Linked DNA regions of Homo sapiens. The protein of the gene in region 4 interacts with the protein of the main gene of each other region in a biochemical or structural test. Each region holds a gene or a part of one and is shown on either strand. Other genes may lie near its edges.

What was found.
Region 1: the proteins of CARD11 (region 4) and PRKN interact in a test that uses a peptide from one of them, tested with the Homo sapiens proteins (one large-scale study listed by IntAct).
Region 2: the proteins of CARD11 (region 4) and BCL10 form a complex in vitro, tested with the Homo sapiens proteins (2 studies listed by BioGRID, with this or other methods).
Region 3: the proteins of CARD11 (region 4) and CLDN20 interact in a test that uses a peptide from one of them, tested with the Homo sapiens proteins (one large-scale study listed by IntAct).

Annotation. Positions count from the first base shown.
Region 1 is NC_000006.12:161,346,624-161,349,841, forward strand, and holds the end of PRKN (E3 ubiquitin-protein ligase parkin), read right to left. Parts: 3' UTR 794-3,218; downstream 1-793. UniProt on the Homo sapiens protein: Functions within a multiprotein E3 ubiquitin ligase complex, catalyzing the covalent attachment of ubiquitin moieties onto substrate proteins. Substrates include SYT11 and VDAC1.
Region 2 is NC_000001.11:85,266,340-85,270,132, forward strand, and holds part of BCL10 (B-cell lymphoma/leukemia 10), read right to left. Parts: intron 1,644-3,793; coding exon 1,288-1,643; 3' UTR 1-1,287. UniProt on the Homo sapiens protein: Plays a key role in both adaptive and innate immune signaling by bridging CARD domain-containing proteins to immune activation.
Region 3 is NC_000006.12:155,274,013-155,277,341, forward strand, and holds the end of CLDN20 (claudin-20 precursor), read left to right. Parts: intron 1-1,603; 5' UTR 1,604-1,707; coding exon 1,708-2,367; 3' UTR 2,368-2,536; downstream 2,537-3,329. UniProt on the Homo sapiens protein: Plays a major role in tight junction-specific obliteration of the intercellular space, through calcium-independent cell-adhesion activity.
Region 4 is NC_000007.14:2,946,072-2,950,158, forward strand, and holds part of CARD11 (caspase recruitment domain-containing protein 11), read right to left. Parts: intron 1,717-4,087; coding exon 1,504-1,716; intron 1,017-1,503; exon of another isoform or gene 526-1,016; intron 1-525. UniProt on the Homo sapiens protein: Adapter protein that plays a key role in adaptive immune response by transducing the activation of NF-kappa-B downstream of T-cell receptor (TCR) and B-cell receptor (BCR) engagement.

The DNA.
Region 1 (3,218 bases), on a different chromosome or scaffold from region 4:
AATTAATTAGTTGTGACAACAACCTAACGTGGTGCATGCTATTATTGTCCCCGAAGCTCTTACACAGGTGCGTTTTGGAGGTGGGGTTCCCACCCTGGCACCCAGAGCTCACCCACTTTCTCTGCCCCCTTTTGCTCTATCATCACCTGGGCCACCATTCCCATGACCTTTGCATATCCTCGGAGTGTTTCCTGTGGCTACTGGCACCCAGAGGACCTCAGTGTGTACTTCTTTGCCTAATGTTGTGCAGGCCCTATCTCGGAATGTTCCATTCCAGATCCCTCCACCATGGGCTCATTGTGAAATAAACAATGCATGGCCACTAAAGCAGTTCTTTGAAAATGCAGCGTCAACACACCCACATTGACAGCAATGCAAAGTCACTGAAATTTTCTAGAATGACATGAGAAAAAATCCTTATAGATAGTCTTTTCCAATGCAAACTTCTCTTTTAAACACTTTTATTAGAAAAGTTTGCTAGTAAGGCAGGAAAGTAACTTTTAGATTTTTATGAATGAGGGTTTGCTTTTTGGAACCCTTTCAAATTTTGATAGCCTTAAAAAACTACTCTTATTTAACAAAGAGAAACAGCCAGCGGTAATCTGGAGCTTGGAGTTGATATGAGAATGGCTATTTCATCACCAGGTAATTCCTCCAGGTCACTGAATGGCTATTTCATCACCAGGTAATTCCTCCAGGCCACAAGTGAGGCCCATGGAGTAATACAGCCTGTGATTCCCTCCGTCACCCTTCACATTGATTGAAAATGTATCTTCAAAGACAGACTCAGAAGCTCTTTTGATGCTTTATTGACAATTTAAGTACAATCTTAGAGTTGTCAGATAATCTCAACACACTTCAGAGAAAAACAGACTTTTTCTGCAAAGACTTTATTTCTATTTTTTGATACATTCATATTTTGTTACACCCTTCCTGTGCAAATAATACTGTGATTCATGTTCATGTGTAGTGGATGATCTTGCTTTTTTGTTTTTGTTTTTTTTTTTTTTTTGAGACAGAGTCTCACTCTGTTGCCCAGGCTGGAGTTCAGTGGCGTGATCTCGGCTCACTGCAACCTCTGCCCCCCGGGTTCAAGTGATTCTCCTGCCTCAGCCTCCCAGGAAGCTGGGATTACAGGTGCCTGCCACCACGCCCAGCTAATTTTTGTATTTTTAATAGAGACGGGGTTTCATCATCTTGGCCAGGCTGGTCTTGAACTCCTGACCTCGTGATCCACCCACCTCGGCCTCCCAAAGTGCTGGGATTACAGGCATGAGCCACCGCGCCCGGCCTGCTCTAACTTATTTTAAGAATCACTGTTCTATTCTGGAAAGGGAAAAGACCACCACCAAGAAGGGAAAGGAGACCATGCTGGACAGCCTAATAGTCTAACAGGGGATCCTAGGGTGCCTGAGCTCATGGGAGCAAACCTTGTTCAGGCACCGCAAGCCCAACGCAGCATGCAGATTGGGAAGGCGCAATAATGCAAACACCATCAGGAAGAAAGCTATGGATGATGGAAAACACTGTGTGCTCCACGTGACAGAAGGGAGCCACCTGATTTGTCGCATCGGGCCAGTGTAAGGAAGTGTAATTTAGTGGGACTGCCAGTGACACTAAGTCAGGCCTTGATCAGGGTCTGGACTCAGTATGGACACGAGCCACTGGGTGCAGGGGGCTCATGCCTGCCACCTCTCTTTTTTTCCCTTACTATAGAGACTTTGATCTGTCCACCATTTCTATGTGAGCTTTGGGCTTCCTGTCACAGGTCTGTTGTCACCGTGGGGCCATGTTGGAGTCGGTAGATTTTCAGACAGTGAAGCCACATGAAGCTGTGAATGCTGATGTGGCTGCTGCAGAGCCCAGTCTCTCCCCGGTGCAGGGCCTCTGAGACGACGGGACTGTCCTCAGATGGTTGGAAGAAATGGGTTATCTTAGGCAGTTAGGAAAAGAGGGACAGGTGTCCCAGGATGTGGAAAACTTGAGTTCATCCCCTCTCTTCCCTCCAGCAAGGATTTCAGTGCTACATCTAAAAAGAGAAGCCCTGTTGCCGATTTAATAATTTACAGTCTCTAAATCCAAAAGGGCCTCCATGTGCTAGTGAGACTCATGCCCTCAGTTATGTTCACGATCTTCCTGAGAAGTCAGACAATACAGGTAGAACAAAAGATAGTGGTTGTACTTTCTCTTCTGCGTAGTGTGGGTAAGAGCATGCGGTTTGCCGCATGCAGTGTTGTTAATCTTTTGATTGTGTTGTGAATGGCTGAAAAAAAAGCTGAAAGTTTGATTGAACTGAAATCCAATCCATGTCAACATAAGGAATATTCTAGTGAGTTTACTGTCCTAAGAGAAGGTCTCTCCTGGGGAACCCCTGGTATGCAGAGCTCCCTGGGACTTGCAGATTGGACAGAGAGGGTGTGCCAAAGGGGTATAAACCCTTCTGATGGAGAGAGTCGGGCGTGTCTTCATTTTGGTAGTTCTGGAAAGGCTCCTCTTTAAAGATTCTGATTTAATAATGTTCACTTTTGTTAAGATTGAATATCATTTTGAAATCATTTCTAAACGTGTTTCCTTTATAGGCACTTTATCTATTAAATTTACAGTGGAGCCAAATGTATTAGCAAAATCTCCAAGTTGCAAAATGAATACTCAGAATCAAACTATAGATTTTTTGGTGATACTTTCAGAAAAACAATTTCTTTCTAAAGTTGCAAATCATGAAAGGGAATGAAAGTACATTAACTTGATTTCTTCCCTGTAATTCAAACATTCAACATTCAAATTAACTTTCATAATTTCTCACTTTGTGACAAGTTGATTTACGCATAGTTGGTATTTCATTAATGCGATTTATATAGATGGAATTCTTAAGGATAAACAAATGTTTTTGACTATTGCCTGGGGTTCTTTGGGAATAGATGCTTTCTGAAAATTTAAATAAGAACATTACTGTTAAAGCCATGAATCTAGTTTGGAGAACCCACTGCAGTTCATTTTACAGAGAAACACCTTGTCAATGGCATCTTCATGGTGTTTACTGAAGGTAAAAGGCAGGATATTAAATGTGAGAACTCTCTCTCCAGCTACTGATTCTGCCTGTCTCGAATTCAGGTGAGAATGACCCATACAGATACATGGATTGCACTTGAATCTGTGCTCTGGTATTTGTGTCATCCGGAGGCTGAGAACGCCTGTTGGTGGTGTCGCAGATGGCTCTG
Region 2 (3,793 bases), on a different chromosome or scaffold from region 4:
ACAGATAAAATTGTAATTTAAATAAAAACAAACAGTGAGAGCATAAGATTTATAAACATGTAAAATTAGTCAAATTTTGTTTTACAACAAAAAGACAAATCTGGCTAATGGCCCACTTGTTCAAATAGCATTAAAAACAGAATTGTCACACACACCAAAAATAATTTGTTCCAGTTATTTCAACTGTACATTGGTCCTCATTAAAAGAGAATGAAAAGTACAGAGAAAATATTTTTTAAAAATCTCATCAGGCTAGGTGAGGTGGCTCGTGTCTGTAATCCCAGCACTTTGGGAGGCCACGCTGGGTAGGTTGCTTGAGTCCAGGAGTTCAAGACCAGCCTGGCCAACATGGCAAAACACCGTCTCTACAAAAATAATACAAAAATTAGTGAGGCATGGTGGCACACACTTGTAGTCTCAGCTATATTACTTGAGAGGCTGAGGTGAGAGGATCACGTAAGCATGGGAGGCAGAAGTTGCAGTGAGCCTAGAATGCGCCACTGCACTCCAGCCTGGGCGATAGAGCAAGACTGTCTCAAAAAAAAAAAAAAAAAAAAAAGAAAAAAGGAAAAAATACCTCATCAAATTACATGTAATAACTGAGGTTTAGGCCAAGATATTTTTCTTTAGGAATGAAAATGATTAAGCCAAGAATGTGAAAATCCTAACAAAGTAGTATAATTAGTAAGGTTAATTAGAAATGAATTTTGGCAAACCGAGATCTTAGGTGGCTCACACTCCATCAAGTGTTCCTCCAGTATCAAAAAGAGGCTGTTTACATGCCTATACGACAATGGAGTGGAAAAGAGATTTTTATTTTTCTATATTGGCAGTTTTCCCATCAGTGACCGGTTTTATTACTGAACAGGAACAGCTTAATGCTGAAAATTTGCTGCTGAATGACTGGCAAAGACTATTAGACTCTTGAAAATTTCTAGCACAAATGCACTGAGGAAAAAACGTTCTTCCTAGTAAGGGTCTATTCTCAAATAGAGATATATTCCCTATTAAAATCAGTCTTAAAATAGAAAATATTTAAAAAAGTACTGAAAGACCTTAAAAAGGAAAAAAAGAAATTACTAAAAAGTACATGATCAACATGATTTACAGTTAGCTATCCTAGAAGTATGCTTTTTTAATTCTAAAAATCCTATTTACAAAGTATGCTTACATTGCATTTTAAAAGACATGCATCAAATGTAAACAAATGATTACAGCCATTTTATAAAAAGTCATATTCTTTAAAACATTTTTTGTCATCATTAAAAATTAAAAGGCAATAAAGTGTCATTGTCGTGAAACAGTACGTGATCTTAAGGGAAGAAACATCTCACTAGAGTTTGCACAAGTTCCTTCTTCTTCTAACTGTAGATCTGGTGGCAAAGGAGGAGCCCCTGGGTCCCCAGGTCTGGGAAGTGTAGTTGAAGAGAAGATGGTATTTTCAGTTCTGCCTACTTCTAGAACAGGCAAATTCAGAGAAGAATTAGTAGAAAAAAAGGGCGTCGTGCTGGATTCTCCTTCTGGATGGTACATGACAGTGGATGCCCTCAGTTTTTCAGAGAAATTACTCTCATCTGAATTTGATCTGGAGAGGTTGTTCGTGGCTCCATCTGGAAAAGGTTCACAACTGCTACATTTTAGTCCTACAATAAAATTATTCAGATGTAAATGAAAAAGTAACTAAAAAAATGGAGTCACTGTCCATCTTGTGACTTGTTAAAGATTACAAGCTAGTTACCCCACAATCAAAATTTAAATAGCAACTTGTAATTTCCGTCATAATCTATTTCAAATCTAATTTGCTTTTCTCAACAACCATGAAGTATACTATTATTTGCATTTTCTATATAACAAAATAGTCTCGTGGAAGTTAAACGACATGCTGTAATTCTCATTTAAGGTACAGCGTACATATAAACTTAACCACCTAAAATTTTTTATAAAATAAGAAATAGCTTTCACAATAAATATTCTTTAGTATTCTGGTACAAAAAATATTAGCTAATAAAAAAATGTAAACGGCAGATGCTAAAATTCTATCTGTTGATCAATGACAATGGCTAATTCTTGAATAATAGGATATTAGAACTAAAAGGAATTTTAGAGGTCACCTAGGATAGTCTCTTATTATTAAAGACGAGAAAAAAGGGCGGGGCATGGTGGCTCACGCCTGTAATCCCAGCACTTTGGGAGGCCGAAGTGGGCAGATCATGAGGTCAGGAGTTTGAGATCAGCCTGGCCAACATGGCGAAACCCCATCTCTACTAAAAATACAGAAATTAGCCAGGCGTGGTGGCAGGTGCCTGCAATCGCAGCTACTCAGGAGGCTGAAGTAGGAGAATCGCTTGAACCTGGGAGGCAGAGGTTGCAGTGAGCTGAGATCATGCCATTGCACTCCAGCCTGGGTGACAAGAGCAAGACTCCGTCTCAAAAAAAAAAAAAAAAAAAGAGAAAAAAAAGGCACAGGACAGTTAAGTCATGTCCAACATTCCAGGACTACTTTGTGGGAAAGTGAGAACTACAATTCAATAGATAATGTCCTGTTTCTCAACCTCACAGTTTACTCAAATGACAGTGGTTGTTCCCATTAGCTGTGGTACGAATGTATCCGCCAAAAGTTCACATGTTGGAAACTTGGTTGCCACTGCAGCAGTGTTAGGAGCTGAGGCCTTTGGGAGGCAACAGGGTCATGAGGGCTCTGCCCTGGACTAATGCCATTATCACGGGAATGGGTTAGTTATTTTGGGAGTTCGACTCCTTTTTCTTCTCTTTCACACTCTTGCCCTCCCTTGCTCTTCCATCTTCTGCCCTTCCACCATGCATGACCCTTGCCAGATGCTGGCGCCATGGTCTTGGACTTAACCAGCCTCCAGAACTGTAAGAAATGAATACATTTCTTTTCTTTAAAAGTTACCCAGTCTCAGGTATTGCTACAGCAGAAAACAACTTAGATACCATCAAAGAATTTTATGATATCCAAAGGGTATAGTTAACCATTATCCAGAGGATTGAAAGAATAAACACAAACACAATTTACCCTTCTGTTAGGCTTAGCAAATATTCAACCTACAGGCACAGAAACCCTGAGTTGACAATTTTTAGGCAAAACCTGCATAGTCTATAAAGGGCACTTACATGTCACTTCTTCCACTAGTTTTTCAACCTCACAGTACAGTCAGCATGTCTATTCCATGCTATACAAACTACTTTCTTAGATATGGCTCAAAAGGGAAAACTTGTAATGTGTCCCAGCAAGGGGACACTTATAGACTATGAGTTCCTTAAGGGCAGAGCCCTAAATTATTCTTTTCTGTATCCCTAATGCCTAGAAGAGCTGTAGAACATCACATGCACATTTATGTGCTCTGGAGAGAGACAGTGAGGAACAGAGGCAGGAGGGGGTTGGGGATTTAAATTGTGTAGGCAATTCCACACAATATTCCAATCAGTGAGTGTATATTCTGGAGTGAGAGTGAAATGGGACAGGTGAATCTGCTATTCTCTTAATCTGTTTCCATGCTTTCACATCTTGCCAGACTAGTTTAAAGTCATGAATATTTTATGCAACGTGATTCCTATAAACATATGCCAATTACTTCATCTTGTGATCAACTGGTGATCATAAGAAAAACTAGCAGAGTTGGACTTTTACAATACTTTGCCTAAATACTGTTCTTTATGTGTGATGTACAGTATTTTCAGAGCTTACTCTTGAATAGATTAACTTTACATTCTACTGACTTTAGAAACAAATCCTTATGTATGCAGGGATTTCATAATAGTTTTCTATAAA
Region 3 (3,329 bases), on a different chromosome or scaffold from region 4:
AATATTGGTCTAAGCCCTTAAAATGTATTAACTTATTTAACCCTATGAACGAAGTATTTCAATCCTCCCCATTTTCCAGAAGAGGATACTGAGGCACAGAGAGGTATAAAGCTAAGAACTGGCCCAAGTGTCTTTGACTCAAGAGCCTGTATCACCTTTTGTAAAATACATATGAATCACGACAGAGCCACTTTAGCATACCATTCAAAATTAACTCAGAATGACAAAGAAAGTCAGTACTGCAGTATTTCAGAAACCATTACATTTTTCTCAAATAAGGCAGTAAGCAGTGCCAGATGGGCTAGATAGGGGAACAGGAATAGAAAGATGGAATCGAAAGCCTTTTTGTTTCTTAAAACACAGCCAAGCCACAAAGTAGGTGGTCTTTTCCTTCCTCTTAAAAATAAACAAAGAAAATAAAGGGTTAATTTATTTCTGGTATCCTTTCACATACAACTAATGATGTGGTTATTTCTGGTATGTATTTTTGAGATCTGCCATCACTACTTCTGAATTGTTCAGAATAGCCGGCTTCATTTGGGCCAGGAAATGATTCTGGTCCCAATTAGAAAGGACCTCATGTTCTTATATACAAAAAACAGTGGCTTAATTGTTTTGAGTACCAGGCACCTGAAGTAAAACAAGTACTAACCTCAGTCAGGATTTTGCAAACAGGTATTAACTAGAACTTAGGGATAACCATGCCAGTGACTCAGACTTCTTTCCACTGCTGTCCTTCCTCCTCAAATGGTTCACTTGGGCTATGTGCCTGGCACTGTGGGTGTGTCATAAAGATCTGTTTATGAAAGCCACTTCCTAAATACTTTTCTAAAATGTATTTATAAACCATCTTTAAAAGGTGGCCTTAATTTATTTTCTTCCTTATTATGTATTGAGTATTTTCATTAAAAATAAAATCATTTGGGCGAGGCGTGGTGGCTCACGCCTGTAATCCCAGCACTTCGGGAGGCCGAGGTGGGCGGATCACGAGGTCAGGAGATCGAGACCATCCTGGCTAACAGGGTGAAACCCCATCTCTACTAAAAATACAAAAAAAAAAAAAATTAGCCGGGCATGGTGGCGGGCGCCTGTAGTCCCAGCTACTCGGGAGGCTGAGGCAGGAGAATGGTGTGAACCCAGGAGGTGGAGCTTGCAGTGAGCCAAGATCGCTCCACTGCACTCCAGCCTGGGTGACAGAGTGAGACTCCATCTCAAAAAAAATAAAAATAAAAAATAAAATCATTTGAAAAACCTATAATGCTATTAAAATTCTTTATCAGATACTATAGCTGGAATTTCAAATGTCTAAATCTCCTAACAACGTACATGTCCACGCTACAGTTTCAGCATATGTTGAGTTTTAAAAAGAATTAAGTGGGCAACTGCTTTCTTTATGCCCTGTATCAACACCACCCATGCATATCACTCAGACCAGTCTTCAAGGCCTGGTGGGAGCTTTTCTCCTCCAGCCTACAGCATCCTCATCTGCTTGGGGGCTGGAGAAGGGGGATACTCAGATGTGTTCTTGGCTCCTACTCTAAAGGGAAGCCTTTTGTTTACTTACTTTCTTTCGCTCAATCCTGGTTTTGCCTTTTTTCCTTAGGCTTTGTTATTTGGTTCTCTACTGCACAGAAATAGATAGAATTCTGACAGCCATCATTGTTAAACATCAGGATTTTCTAAGAGGACAGACTTAACAGTAACATCATGGCCTCAGCAGGACTCCAGCTCCTTGCTTTCATCCTGGCCTTATCTGGGGTCTCTGGAGTGCTCACAGCCACTCTGCTGCCCAACTGGAAGGTGAATGTGGATGTGGACTCCAACATCATAACAGCCATTGTACAGCTGCACGGGCTCTGGATGGACTGTACGTGGTACAGCACTGGGATGTTCAGCTGTGCCCTGAAACACTCCATTCTGTCCCTCCCCATCCACGTGCAGGCTGCGAGAGCCACCATGGTCCTGGCGTGTGTTCTGTCTGCTTTGGGGATCTGCACTTCCACAGTAGGAATGAAATGTACTCGCTTAGGAGGGGACAGAGAAACCAAGAGCCATGCTTCCTTTGCTGGAGGAGTCTGTTTCATGTCTGCAGGAATCTCTAGTTTAATCTCGACAGTGTGGTACACAAAGGAGATCATAGCAAACTTTCTGGATCTGACAGTTCCAGAAAGCAACAAACATGAACCTGGAGGAGCTATCTATATCGGATTCATTTCTGCAATGCTGTTGTTTATCTCTGGCATGATTTTCTGCACCTCCTGTATAAAAAGGAATCCAGAAGCTAGACTCGACCCACCCACACAGCAGCCTATCTCTAACACACAGCTCGAGAACAATTCCACACACAATCTGAAGGATTATGTGTAAATAACTGAGTAATGCATATGAAATGGAACTTTTGGGTGCCAAATGGGACTTTTAGATTAAAAAAAAATCAGAATTATGCTTAACTTTCCCTACAAAGAAAGTAGAATGTAAAATACTTTAACAACTACAAAGTAGTTTAAAATGCCAATAAAACTATCATATACAATTACATCTGTCTGAAGAGTTCTTTATTTTTTCCATTATTGTTTCCATGTTTTACTTAAAGATTTATAATTGAAAGAGGTTCTGATTACATTCATAAGGCAATTATTTGATAGCTTTTTCAAGATAATTTGCTGATACACCTTTCAAACTGGATTTTATAAAAGAACTAAACTGCCAAGTATAAAAAGTACCTTGCCCTGGTGTTAACCAAGAATATTATCCACTTTGCTATCTGGTTGGCAACAACACAGCAACTTGCTTCTGTTTTAAAGCTACAGTGTGTGAAAGTACATTAGGAATACAAGAGCTGCCTACTCCATTCAGATGCTGCTAAAACCATCCATCCCAAGTCCCCACCTCCTGTGACCAGCCCATTTCTTTTTCATTTTAGAAAACTATCTACATATATTTGTAAGAGCTGACAATATTATATGCAAACTAAGATTAGGCAGAACTGAAGAAATTGGTAAATGCTACCACAGTAAAGAAAGCCAAACCAAACTAAAATCTCTAGGACTCTTAAAGCATTAAGTACAAGCTAAGTGATAAGAACAAAAGTTTGTTTTAAAATGTTTAAGAACTCCCTTCTTCTGCTTCTAGCAAGAGGATTCTCCACAGATTAAGTTCATTTATCCTATCACATTCTGGATTTACTACCATCCCACTTCCTCTCTCATTTATTCATATTTGGATGATAAAAGTTACCTTTGTCACTTTTTCTCTCAAATTTCATTCATGTTAACAAAAACATTCTTACAAATAAGCTGTTTCAATTAATGAATGTCAAAATATATTTT
Region 4 (4,087 bases):
CCACATTCTATCACTTCTGAGTTGTATCTTGGAGCCCAGATGACGTAAATCAAGGTGCCAGGCCCTCCGCAGGGATTTGGTGAGCGTTAGTTTTCTGTTTCTAATAAACTGGTAGAACCAGGATAAATGGAATTGCCGCCCCAGTTTTGAAGAGTTTCCCAACTGACCAGGGCCAAAATGAACCACGTAGGCACCAGGTCTTCTATGACTGAAGGAGGTTGGAAGCACGATAAAAATTATGGAATAATATATGGTTCTCTGGGATTGAGAGCAGGAAGACAAATCTTTGGGTGAGAGGCTAGGAAAAATCATAGGAAGTAGGGATAGTTCTAGGTTTTTCTTTGGGATTATTACACAACCTGGAAACACCTTAAATGTAATTTCCCCAGCAGGTCCCAGTTTCTATACTATTGATTCCACTTATTGCTTACATTTCTGGGCCCTTCCTTAAACATTTTATTTTCAGATATTCTTCTGAGATATAGAAGAAGAAAGGTAGGTCTTAAAACTCGACCTTTTCCCTAGGACGGACAGAAGAAATAAATTTGATGGTATGTCAACCCCGATTGTTTGGTGAAGCCGCCTGCAGTACTGTTTCGAGAAACATTCCAAAGTTACATCCAAGCTCAGTGGGAAAGCATGCTGATTACTGATGTCTGCCATGGATGCCAGAGAGTCGCAGCTGATGAGCCACTTACCACCAGCCACGCTGGGGGACAGTGATTATCAAACCTTCTAAACTGATCCATAGAAAGAAAAACATTTAACATTGTGGTCTAGTGACCATAGACAAAGATAACTCTACAAGTACATGTGTATACACATGTACATAATGTAAAATTAAAACAAGCTTCACAAACCATATTTATTACCTTTACTGAATATGATAAACCCCCCCTCCAGAAGTCAGGCTAGAAAAGCTTGTGGAACCCTTCTCGGAATATTTTTAAACAGATAAAGTACATCAGATTACAAAAGAAACCAATTATAATAAAATCCAGTTATCAAATATTAAATAAATTTGTGTTTCAGTAACATACTTCTTTATTAATGCATTAAATAACAAGACCTCTCGGCAGGTCTAATAAGTACTGTAATTTTGAAAGAGAGATGAGTGTAAGTGGCATTTTGAGAGATTTGCAGTAACTGTAGTGATAGGAAGAGATCTGTAATTTTCATTGTTGCCTAAGTCACAAGAATTACTAATCACTCCTGTAATTTGTGGCTTCCTGACATTTGCAATTGAGGGCAATGCTGAATTGCAGTTGAGGTTGGTAAAATAAAGATGGCATTTCTTCCCCCCTCCCAGTTTATGGATCCTTTGAGTTCCATACACAGACAGCTTGAGTTCTATACACAAATGAGTAGGTGATGGACTGCGGACCCCAGTTTAAAAATCCCTGACCTAGAGCAACTTCATTTTGGTACAGCTACCAAAGGGTATGTCTGGAAGTTGCCGTGTGCGGTAGCCCTCCCTCTCCCGCAAAGAGGTCCTAAGGTTACCTGCTCGGTTGATCTTGGATGGCAGCATAGGGGCATTAAGCACTTCATCTTCATCCTGCTCATCAATGACCTTACACTGACGCAGGTAGGGCGTGAGCTTGGCAGGGTTGATATAGCGGCTGAGCATGTGCCGGTTACACTCCACATTCTCCCACAAGGCGTCCTCTTCATCCTTCAGCGTCTCCATGTAGTCATCCATCTCTGGCCCTCCTCCTTTTAGACATAAACCCCAACAAGCTTAATAAAGCAGTCTCACTGGAACAGCTCTATCAACTCCTCTGGAGTGACCTCTAGAATATATTAAGTTAAAAAAAAGTCCTGTACACTAAAGTATATATAGCATTTTACCTTTTGTCTAAGAAAGGGGTTATGAATATAAAAATATATATTTCCTTATATGCTAAACATAAACAATGGAAGTTTAAGCCATCAATTTTAAAAAAGATTATTTATAGGGCAGAGAGGGAAAATCCTGCGGTTGAGTCTACCCTTTCCATCCAAGTTTTTATGTCTTACTAAAAATGTATAGTTCCCTAAACAATATATACTATTGGCTTTTGTTTTAAAATTTCACATAAATGGTGTCATACTGTACGTTTCCTTTTTCAGCATGTTTTTCTCCCTCTACATTTTTTTTTGAGATTTATCTAGATGGATACATATAGATCTAAGTCATTCGTTTTTAAAAATAGCTTTATTGTGATGTAATTCACATAGCATACAAGTTACCTTTTTAATATGTTCAATTCAATGATTTTAGTATATTCACAGAGCTGTGCAACCACCACCACAATCAATTTAAAATCATTTCCGTCATTTCAAAAAGAAGCTCCTCACCCTTTATTAGCCACTCTCAATTTCCCTCTAATCCCTGCTCCTCCAGCCCTGTGTAACCACTCGTTCACCTTCTGTCTGTATAGATTTGTCTTTTCCGTACATTTTATACAAGTGAAATCCTACAATTTATGGTCTTTCATGTCTGGCTTCTTTCACTCAGCAACTTTTCAAGGTTTGTTCCTGTTGTAGCATGTATCAGGACTTCACTTATTTTAAATTGCTCAGTGATTTTTTCATTGCATGGACATGCCCCATTTTGCTTGTCTGTTCATCCACTAATGGACATTTGAGTTATTTCTACCTTTTGTCTATTATGAACAATGCTGCTATGAACATTCATGTAAAAGTTTTTGTGTGACTGTATGTTTTTATTTCCCTTGGGTAGATACGTAAGAGTGGATTGTTAGGCCATATGGCAACTCTATATTTAACATTTTGAGGAATTGCCAAATTGTTTTCCAAAGCAGCTGCATCATTTTACATTGCCACCAACAAGCCATGAGGGTTTTAATTCCTCCATATTCTTGCTAACAACTTGTTATTGTCTGTCTTTTTTATTACAGCTCTCCTACTGAGTGTGAAGTAGCATCTCATTGTGGTTTTGATTTGCATTTCCCTAATGACTAACGATGTTGAGCATCTTTTCATGTGCATATTGGCCATTTGTGTGCATTGAGAAATGTCTATTCAAATCCTTTGCCCATTTTAAAATTGTGTTGTTTGTCTTTTTATTATTGGGTTGTAGGATTTTGTTATGTATTCTGGATGCAAGCCACTTATCAGATATATGACTTGCAAATATTTTCTCCCACTCTGTCAGTTGTCTTTTCACTTTCTTAAAAGCATTGTTTGTAGCACAAAAGTTTCAAATTTTGAGGTAGTCCAATTTATTTATTTTTTCTTTTTTTCACTTGTGCTCTTGGCATGTATCCGAAACACCATTGTCTAACTCAAGATGATGAAGACTTACTCCTGTTTTTTGCCTTTGAATATTATACCTTAGTTCTTACATTGAGGATGATCCATTTTGAGTTAATTTTTGTGTATGGTGTGAGGTAGGGGTCCAGTTGCATTCTTTTATGTGTGGATGTCCAGTTGTCCAAGCACAGTTTGTTTGAAAAGACTACTCTTTCCCCATTGAATGATCTTGCTACCCTTGTTGACAATCAACTGACCATAAAAGTAAACATTTGTTTTTGCACTATTGATTCTATTCCATTGATCTATATGTGTATCCTTATGCCAGTACTACATTGTCTTGATTACCGAAGATTTGTAGATTTGTAGTAGGCCTTGAAATTGGGAGTATGGGTCTCCCAACCTTGTTCTTTTTCAAGATTGTTTTGGCTATTAGGTGCCTTTTACCTAATTTTAGGATTAGGATGTCAATTTCTGCAAAAAAGGCAGTTGGCATTTTGGTAGTGAATCTGCTGAATATGTAGATCAATTTGGAGAGTACTGCTACCTAACAATATTAAATCTTCTGATCTATGAACAGGGGGATGTCTTTCTTTAAATCTTCTTTAATTTCTTTCAGCAATGTTTCATAGTTCTCAGTGTACAAGTCTTGCACTTCTTTTGTTAAATATATTCCTAAGTATTTCATTAATTTGATGACATTATAAATGGGAGTTTTTTTCTTAATTTCATTTGTGGGATATTCATTGCTGGTCTATAGATATATAATTTATTTTTGTATATTGACCTTGTATTCTGCAACCTTGTGAAATCATTTATTAGTTCTGTT